3 separate regions of the Homo sapiens genome follow, and all the other regions are linked to region 3. The links come from fine-mapping of genetic effects on gene expression. A gene starts in region 3. Each other region holds a variant in brackets. All regions are shown on one strand. Distances are from middle to middle. Region 1 overlaps KIF5C (kinesin family member 5C). Region 2 overlaps MMADHC-DT (MMADHC divergent transcript). Region 3 holds the start of KIF5C (kinesin family member 5C).

The links.
Region 1: its variant is fine-mapped to the expression of KIF5C in whole blood (TOPMed, PIP above 0.99).
Region 2: its variant is fine-mapped to the expression of KIF5C in spleen (GTEx, PIP 0.99).

What each region holds. Positions count from the first base shown.
Region 1 is chr2:148,975,077-148,977,833 of GRCh38, reverse strand. The region is part of intron 12 of KIF5C (kinesin family member 5C); the gene reads right to left. Among named protein-coding and RNA genes, the nearest start is that of LYPD6B, 62 kb to the left of the region's middle. The variant C/T (reference allele first, on the strand shown) is at 1,533.
Region 2 is chr2:149,641,342-149,644,098 of GRCh38, reverse strand. The region is part of intron 1 of MMADHC-DT (MMADHC divergent transcript); the gene reads right to left. Among named protein-coding and RNA genes, the nearest start is that of MMADHC, 55 kb to the right of the region's middle. The variant C/T (reference allele first, on the strand shown) is at 1,714.
Region 3 is chr2:148,873,649-148,876,405 of GRCh38, reverse strand. KIF5C (kinesin family member 5C) reads right to left here and starts at 1,179. Exons shown (of 26, transcript NM_004522.3): 1 at 663-1,179. The coding sequence starts at 788. KIF5C-AS1 (KIF5C antisense RNA 1) reads left to right here. Exons shown (of 4, transcript XR_001739733.2): 4 at 211-2,757. RefSeq lists an enhancer at 1-513 and a silencer at 886-1,355.

The DNA.
Region 1 (2,757 bases), 100 kb before region 3:
CCTGTTTGGTGATATCTATGCATACATTTGAATCATGTTAATTTAATGTCACAAACTAATGCTTTCCATGGAGAAAGAAAATTCTAAAATCAGCCATACAGGATCTGAATCTCCTTGTCCTTTATGTAGACCATCATTTGGCTTTGCTTTTCTACTTAAAGAGATCCTGTTTCTACTGAACCCTTTACACCAATGTTTCTTTAATGGTTCTATTTTCCTGCACAAATCATATTAGGGAAATTATACCAGAATGAAACCTCCAAAAACTGGCACTTCTACAACTAGAAGACTATTTTGTAGATATATTTTCTCTTCTACTTTATAAACTTAGCACGTCAGTTACCAGTAACGATTTTGTGTTTATGTTCCTGAGCACTTAAATATTAGACAACTTAGCATAAAGGATTCAAAGAATTTACCATCGGAGAGCCACCATCTCTTCTCCTGGGACAAATGGACAAGCACTACAAGTGATATAAACCACAAGAGGAGAGAAATGGAGTGAACTCTGTCCTTACGCTGTGCTCATTTCAAAGCCTGAAGATGCAGGCTTCCTCCCAACAGATGACAAGCTGGGATGCAGTGATTTTTAAGGTACAGTGAAAAACCAAGGGCCCCTGGCCCCACCTGGGAAGGATGAAGAACAAGGATGATACTACAGAAGACGTGGATCACTTGTATCAGAGACATTTCCCAAACTATATTTACCCTTTATTAAGGCAACTTATCTAAGGAATTAATGAGCTCTACTGTGATTTTTTTTAAAGTCTTTCAAAACCTCCAGAATAATAAGGTGTGCTTATATCTACACATTCAACTGCATCTCTTAGAACATGCATAAGCACGCTCACTCTGATGCCGGTTCTAAAGATCTTGTCCATGGATAACAGATTTTAAAGCACTTTTCAGAAAGTATTTTATACTTGAATTTTCTTATACATGAAATAACATAAGGCCAGTTACAGTGGCTCACGCCTATAATCCCAGCACTTTGGGAGGCCAAGGCAGCTTGATCACTTGAGCCCAGGAGTCCGAGACCAGCCTGAGCAACATGGCAAATCTCCGTCTCTACAAAACATACAAAAAAAAAAATTAGCTGAGTGTGGTGGTATGTGCCTGTAGTACCAGCTACTCAGGAGGCTGAGGCAGGTGGATGGCTTGAGCCTGGAAGGTTGAAGCTGCAGTGAGTTGTGATTTCACCACTGCACTCTAGTCTGCGCAACAGAACAAGACCCCATCTCAAAAATTAAAAAAAAAATAACATGCGGCCAGGCGTGGTGGCTCAGGCCTGAAATCCCAGCACTTTGGGAGGCCGAGGCAGGTGGATCACGAGGTCAGGAAATCAAGACCATCCTGGCCAAGATGGTGAAGCCCCATCTCTACTAAAAATACAAAAATTAGCCAGGCGTGGTGGTGTGCGCCTGTAGTCCCAGCTACTCAGGAGGCTGAGGCAGGAGAATTGCTTGAACCCAGGAGGCAGAGGTTGCAGTGCACTGAGGTCGCACCACTGGACTCCAGCCTGAGTGACAGAG[C/T]GAGACTCCATCTCAAAAAATAAATAAATAAATAAATAAATAAATAAATAAATAAAACAAAATAATATGCACACCCTTATAAATGAGAAACTGGTCAACCTCAGTTGTCAACAGGTCACTGTTCACCTTTAAGTATAAAAATGTTTTTATTGCAATGGTAATCTGCATAAAAATAATCAACTTTCATTTCTACTTAAGCTTGGTTCGTGTCAGGATCTCCAAGAGCAGAGCAGTACTGTAGAGGGACAGAGACTAAGAGACAAGGAGTGCCAGCGCCAACTTGTTCACATTGTGTCTCTGCTGGTGGCCCCCTTGGCACCACCCCTTCCACACCACACACGGAAGTAAGCAGAGCCCAGCCCAGCCCAGGAGAAAGAAGGAAGCTAATATTTACTGGGCACCTGCAATGTACTAGAAACTTTTAATCCTCACCACAGCCTTTTGAATTAACAGATATAAGCCCCATGATACAGATGAGAAAAAGCACCTTCAGCAGGGCCAGGCGCCAGCCCAGGACTCAGCATTATTGTCACAGGTCTGCCCAGGTCTCAGTGTCATTGTTACAGGTCTGAGTCCACAGTGCATGCTCTCCCATCACACAGCATAGCCTTGGGAGAGTACCTGTGCTTGGAGCCCTGGCGGGGCAGCACGGAGGAACAGAAGGGACAGCTGGGAGGAAACCGTGTGGTCTTTCTCCCTCCACACCCTAAATAGATTCACTGAGGTTGACCAGGTCCTCATTTAAAGGGCTGAGGGCAAAATGAGATGAGCACTGGGGTGGGAGTCAGAAGATATGTAACTTCATCCTAGCTCTGCCACCTATATGTGATATACACTTGGGTAAGTCACATAACCACCCTGGGCTAGTGCCTCACCCAAACCTAAATACCTCCTGTTCTACCTTTCAGTAGACTAAGAAGGTGCCATATCCCACCTCATGTATTCTTCAAGCGTCAAACCACCTACATCAACAGAAACATGGAAGTGCCTCCTAGAACATTTCAGAGGAGGACCCCTAAGAATGACAGTTGGTAAGACATAATCAGGCAGTCTTTGGGAAGGGTCACTGAGGGCAAACCATTAGCTCTGGTGCCCCCTAAGGCTGAGGCTTCTAGGCTCAGTCCTCTCCCACGTCTCTCAGCATCATCATGTGAGGGACCACAAATACTAGCCTCCAACAGCGGGCCTTACAGAATCTTCAAAGCACATGCTGTAGGAAAATGAC
Region 2 (2,757 bases), 770 kb before region 3:
AATAAATACATGTCCACCAAATCAGTCTTCCTCAGCGTGGGAGGACAGAAAGCCAGAAGTGAAATAAAAGAAGTAAAGAAGTGATGATGAGGGAAGAAAGAACATGTAGATGGCCGAATAGGAACAGCTCCAGTCTACAGCTCCCAGCGTGAGTGACTCAGAAGATGAATGATTTCTGCATTTCCAACTGAGGTACCGGGTTCATCACACTGGGGATTGTCGGACAGTGGGTGCAAGACAGTGGGTGCAGTGCACTGAGCATGAGCCGAAGCAGGGCAAGGCATCACCTCACCCAGGAAGCGCAAGGGGTCAGGGAATTCCCTTTCCTAGCCAAGGAAAGGGGTGACAGACAGCACCTGGAAAATCGGGTCACTCCCACCCTAATACTGTGCTTTTCCAATGGTCCTAGCAAACAGCAAACTAGAAGATTGTATCCCACCTGGCTCGGAGGGTCCTACGCCCATGGAGCCTCGCTCATTGCTAGCACAGCAGTCTGAGATCAAACTGCAAGGCAGCAGCAAGGCTGGGGGAGGGGAGCCCACCATTGTAGGTAAACAAAGCAGCCAGGAAGCTCGAACTGGGTGGAGCCCACTGCAGCTCAAGGCCTGCCTGTCTCTGTAGACTCCACCTCTGGGGGCAGGGCATAGCCCAACAAAAGGCAGCAGAAACCTCTGCAGACTTAAATGTCCCTGTCTGACAGCTTTGAAGAGAGTAGTGGTTCTCCCAGCACACAGCTTGAGATCTGAGAACAGACAGACTGCCTCCTCAAGTGGGTCCCTGACCCCTGAGTAGCCTAACTGGGAGGCACCCCCGAGTAGGGGCAGACTGACACCTCACACGGCCGGGTACTCCTCTGAGACAAAACTTCCACAGGAACGATCAGACAGCAACATTTGCTTTTCACTAATATCCGCTGTTCTGCAGCCTCTGCTGCTGATACCCAGGCAAAAAGGGTCTGGAGTGGACCTCCAGAAAACTCCAATAGACCTGCAGCTGAGGGTCCTGACTGTTAGAAGGAAAACAAACAGAAAGGACATCCACACTAAAACCCCATCTGTACGTCACCATCATCAAAGACCAAAGGTAGACAAAACCACAAAGATGGGGAAAAAACATAGCAGAAAAACTGAAAATTCTAAAAATCAGAGCACCTCTCCTCCTCCAAAGGAATGCAGCTCCTCACCAGCAATGGAACAAAGCTGGACAGAGAATGACTTTGACGAGTTGAAAGAAGAAGGCTTCAGACGATCAAACTACTCTGAGCTAAAGGAGGAAGTTCGAACCCATGGCAAAGAAGTTAAAAACATTGAAAAAAGATTAGATGAATGGCTAACTAGAATAACCCATGCAGAGAAGTCATTAAAGGACCTGATGGAGCTGAAAACCATGGCACAAGAACAACGTGACGAATACACAAGCCTCAGTTGCCACTTCGATCAACTGGAAGAAAGGGTATCAGTGATGGAAGATGAAATGAATGAAATGAAGCAAGAAGAGAAGTTAAGAGAAAAAAGGATAGAAAGAAACGAACAAAGCCTCCAAGAAACATGGGACTATGTGAAAAGACCAAATCTACATCTGACTGGTGTACTTGAAAGTGACGGGGAGAATGGAACCAAGTTGGAAAACACTCTGCAGGATATTATCCAGGAGAACTTCCCCAATCTAGCAAGGCAGGCCAACATTCAGATTCAGGAAATACAGAGAACACCA[C/T]AAAGATACTCCTTGAGAAGAGCAACTCCAAGACACATAATTGTCAGATTCACCAAAGTTGAAATGAAGGAAAAAATGTTAAGAGCAGCCAGAGAGAAAGGTCGGGTTACCCACAAAGGGAAGCCCATCAGACTAACAGCTGATCTCTTGGCAGAAACTCTAAAAGCCAGAAGATAGTGGGGGCCAATATTCAATATTATTAGAGAAAAGAATTTTCAACCCAGAATTTCATATCCAGCCAAACTAAGCTTCATAAGTGAAGGAGAAATAAAATACTTTACACACAAGCAAATGCTGAGAGATTTTGTCACCACCAGGCCTGCCTTAAAAGAGCTCCTGAAGGAAGCACTAAACATGGAAAGGAACAACTGGTACCAGCCACTGCAAAAACATGCCAAATTGTAAAGACCATCGAGGCTAGGAGGAAACTGCATCAACTGACGAGCAAAATAACCAGCTAACATAATAATGACAGGATCAAATTCATACATAACAATGTTAACCTTAAATGTAAACGGGCTAAATGCTCCAATTAAAAGACATAGACTGGCAAATTGGATAAAGATTCTAGACCCATCAGTGCGCTGTATTCAGAAAACCCATCTCACATGCAGAGACACACATAGGCTCAAAAATAAAAGGAGAGAGGAAGATCTACCAAGCAAATGGAAAACAAAAAAAGGCAGGGGTTGCAATCCTAGTCTCTGATAAAACAGACTTTAAACCAACAAAGATCAAAAGAGACAAAGAAGGCCATTACATAATGGTAAAGGGATCAATTCAACAAGAAGAGCTAACTACCCTAAATATATATGCATGCAATACAGGAGCACCCAGATTCATAAAGCAAGTCCTTAGAGACCTACAAAGAGACTTAGACTCCCACACAATAATAATGGCAGACTTTGACACCCCACTGCCAAAGTTAGACAGATCAACGAGACAGAAAGTTAACAAGGATATCCAGGAATTGAACTCAGCTCTGCACCAAGCAGACCTAATAGACATCTACAGAACTCTCCACCCCAAATCCACAAAATATAC
Region 3 (2,757 bases):
CTCCACATCCAGGGCAGCCAGGCGTGAGAGGAAGCGGGAGACACACCAGGCCTCCAGGGGACACCGAGGCCACCAGTACTCCCCCAACCCTCCGCCTTCCGCGCGCGGAGCCAGGTGTAACACCGCGGGGAGCCGCGTCTACACTGCCGCGGGAGCTCCGAGACGCGACTAGAAATTTTCCTGTACCCCTTTTTCTTTCTTTTTTGCTAGGGTCGTGAGAAGAAGAGGCAAGGCGTTTGGTAAATCGAATTGATTGATGCCCAGAAGCATTTGCGGGTTGCAGAGCTCACACTTTAAAGGGGGCCTGGGCACCCGGCTTGAGGGTCACCCGAACACACTACCCACGCGGCGAGGCGAGCGTGGGGAACAATGGGCCCACCCGGGCCCCCACCCGGCGAACAATGGCGGCGCCGAGCCCGTCTTCGCCCCCCATCCCCACCCCCGCCACCCCCGCCCGGCCCGCCGCTCCCGGCCGCCTCTCCACCCGCCCGGGAGGGAACCATAGTGCGCGGGGCGAGGGGTCTCTGGTCAGGTCCACCCGAGAGGCCAGCCCCGCGGGAATGTCCGAGGGGGCGGCCTAAACACCTCCGCTGCGTCTGGGGCGTCGGGGCGCCCAGCTGCGGCGCGGAGCAGCAGGGAAGGCAGACGCCCCAGCCACTTACCCCGATCACCACGGTCTCATCGCCTTTAAATTTGGGGATGAATTTGTCCCCGCGGAGGATCTCCGCTTCGTTGAGGGGCCGGAACCGGCACATCACTTTGATGCTGCATTCGGCTGGATCCGCCATCTCGGCCGGCGGTAGGGAGGGGGCACGGGGATGGGTGGGGGGCCGGGGCCGGGAACGACGAGGGAGGAGGCCGCGAGCTGCACCGCCCACAGCTAGGCCGCCTCCTGCAGCCTCCGACGACGCTTCTCAGCAGGTCATCGCGAGCCCGGCCGGCTGAGCAGCCCCGGCCGCTCCGAGCCCGGGAAGGTGGGCAGCTTCTCCGCTCCGGCCCCTCCGGCTGCAGACCGGCCTGCCCTGGCCCTGCCCCGCCCCTGCCCAGCGCCCCCCGGCCCACCTGCCCGCGACCACGCGGCGGGCGGAGGAGGCGATGCGCAGGGAGCGAGCCTCGCCCGGCTCAGACCTCCCGGGCTCCTGCGCGCTCAGCCATCCTGCATCAGCACCAGCGCGCTCTGCCGCCTTGAGACCCGCCCCTCCGCCCCGCCCTCCCCTGGCCCGCCCCGGGACGGTGACGTCACCGTAGAGGTCCGCCCGGCCCCCGCCCGACTCCGAGCGCTGCGCATCCCGGGACTTGTAGTCACTCTACCTGCCGGGGGAAGGACAGGATGCGACCTCCAAGAGCCTGCAAGTCCGGTCTGGCTGCCCAAGCCGGAACCGGATGGAGGTCATATCCAATATTTCCGGTTAAAATCTCTAGATAACTGGGTCTGGATCATCCTGATCCCAAAAGAAAATCACTTGGGAAACAGCTCCCAATAGCCCCTGGGTTTCATCCTTCAACTTCTACCACTAGATAAGGATGGATGTCTGTTCAGAGTTTGGGTTTGATTGGCCTTGGTTTAGGTTGGCATCTAGTGCTAAACCAATCAACCAGAATCAGGGATTTTGTAAGATTATGGAGGAATCCCTTGGTGGGAAGGTTCCCAAAAGAAGAGGGATGGTATTCCCAGACATGGTGCCGGGCTGGCAGAACAACTGAGTGTCCACTCTATTTTTCCAGAACTTCCTTTTCCTCTAAGACCTAGCTCAACCCTCCTTCCTCAGACTTTCCCAGCTCACTAAACACCTATAAAGAGTTGGTGGCCCTCCTTGATGTTCCCCTAATCTGCTGTGCCTGTCTCTAGCACTGCACTTGGGTGGTGATATCTGCTTGATATCTTTGTGTCTGTAGCATCTAGCACATAGTGGGCAGCATACTGAATAAGGATTCTACCCTAGGAAGAAGCAATGCATGAGTGTGAATCCCACCTCAGCCACTTATTAGATGTATGACCAACAGGCGGAGGAAATTAAGAGCGGAGGAAATTAAGAAGTCTTAATTTCCTTAAGACTCAGTTTCCTCATCTCTGTCATTGGAATAATATCATCTTGTGATTTCTGGGGGAATTAAAAGACAGATGCTTTTAAAGCACCTAGCACGGTGCCTGACATGTATATAGGATAAGCTCTTGAAAGTTAGATGTTATTGGGTGCTGAACAAATGATCATAAAACAAATAAGTTAGTTAATTTTAGGAACACATCTGTTGCTTAAATTCGGGTAATACCTGAAAATACAAGTGTTCTCTGCCTAGCTGAGAGGACAGACCTACTAAAATCAACTTTTATAAACCCTTGTAAGTAGTACCAGTTCTATTTCATCTCCTCATGTGCAGTGGAAGTAGATTAAAAAGACCCAGGTGCCACCTTCTCATCTGTTTTTAAATTAAGTAATTCTCAGGCTCTGGCTCAGAGACCCATCATCTTAAATGATCAACTTCATAATATACTAGAGAGGACAATCCAATTCTCAGTTTCCCTGAGCCCACCAGAAGATGCCCAGAACCTTGCATACACTGGTTTATCTGAGGAGGTCAGGATTATCTCAAGTGGACAGAGACGTATCTGTGTGTCACTGTGTTCAGTCATCATTCATTCGTTCATCTGTTCATTCATCAGCTATTAACTGAGCAAATGGCATTTGCTGTCACTCTGTAAACTTAGATTTATTAAGTGAACCCTTTTCAAGGGAGATAACGTAGGGCCTCTCATTT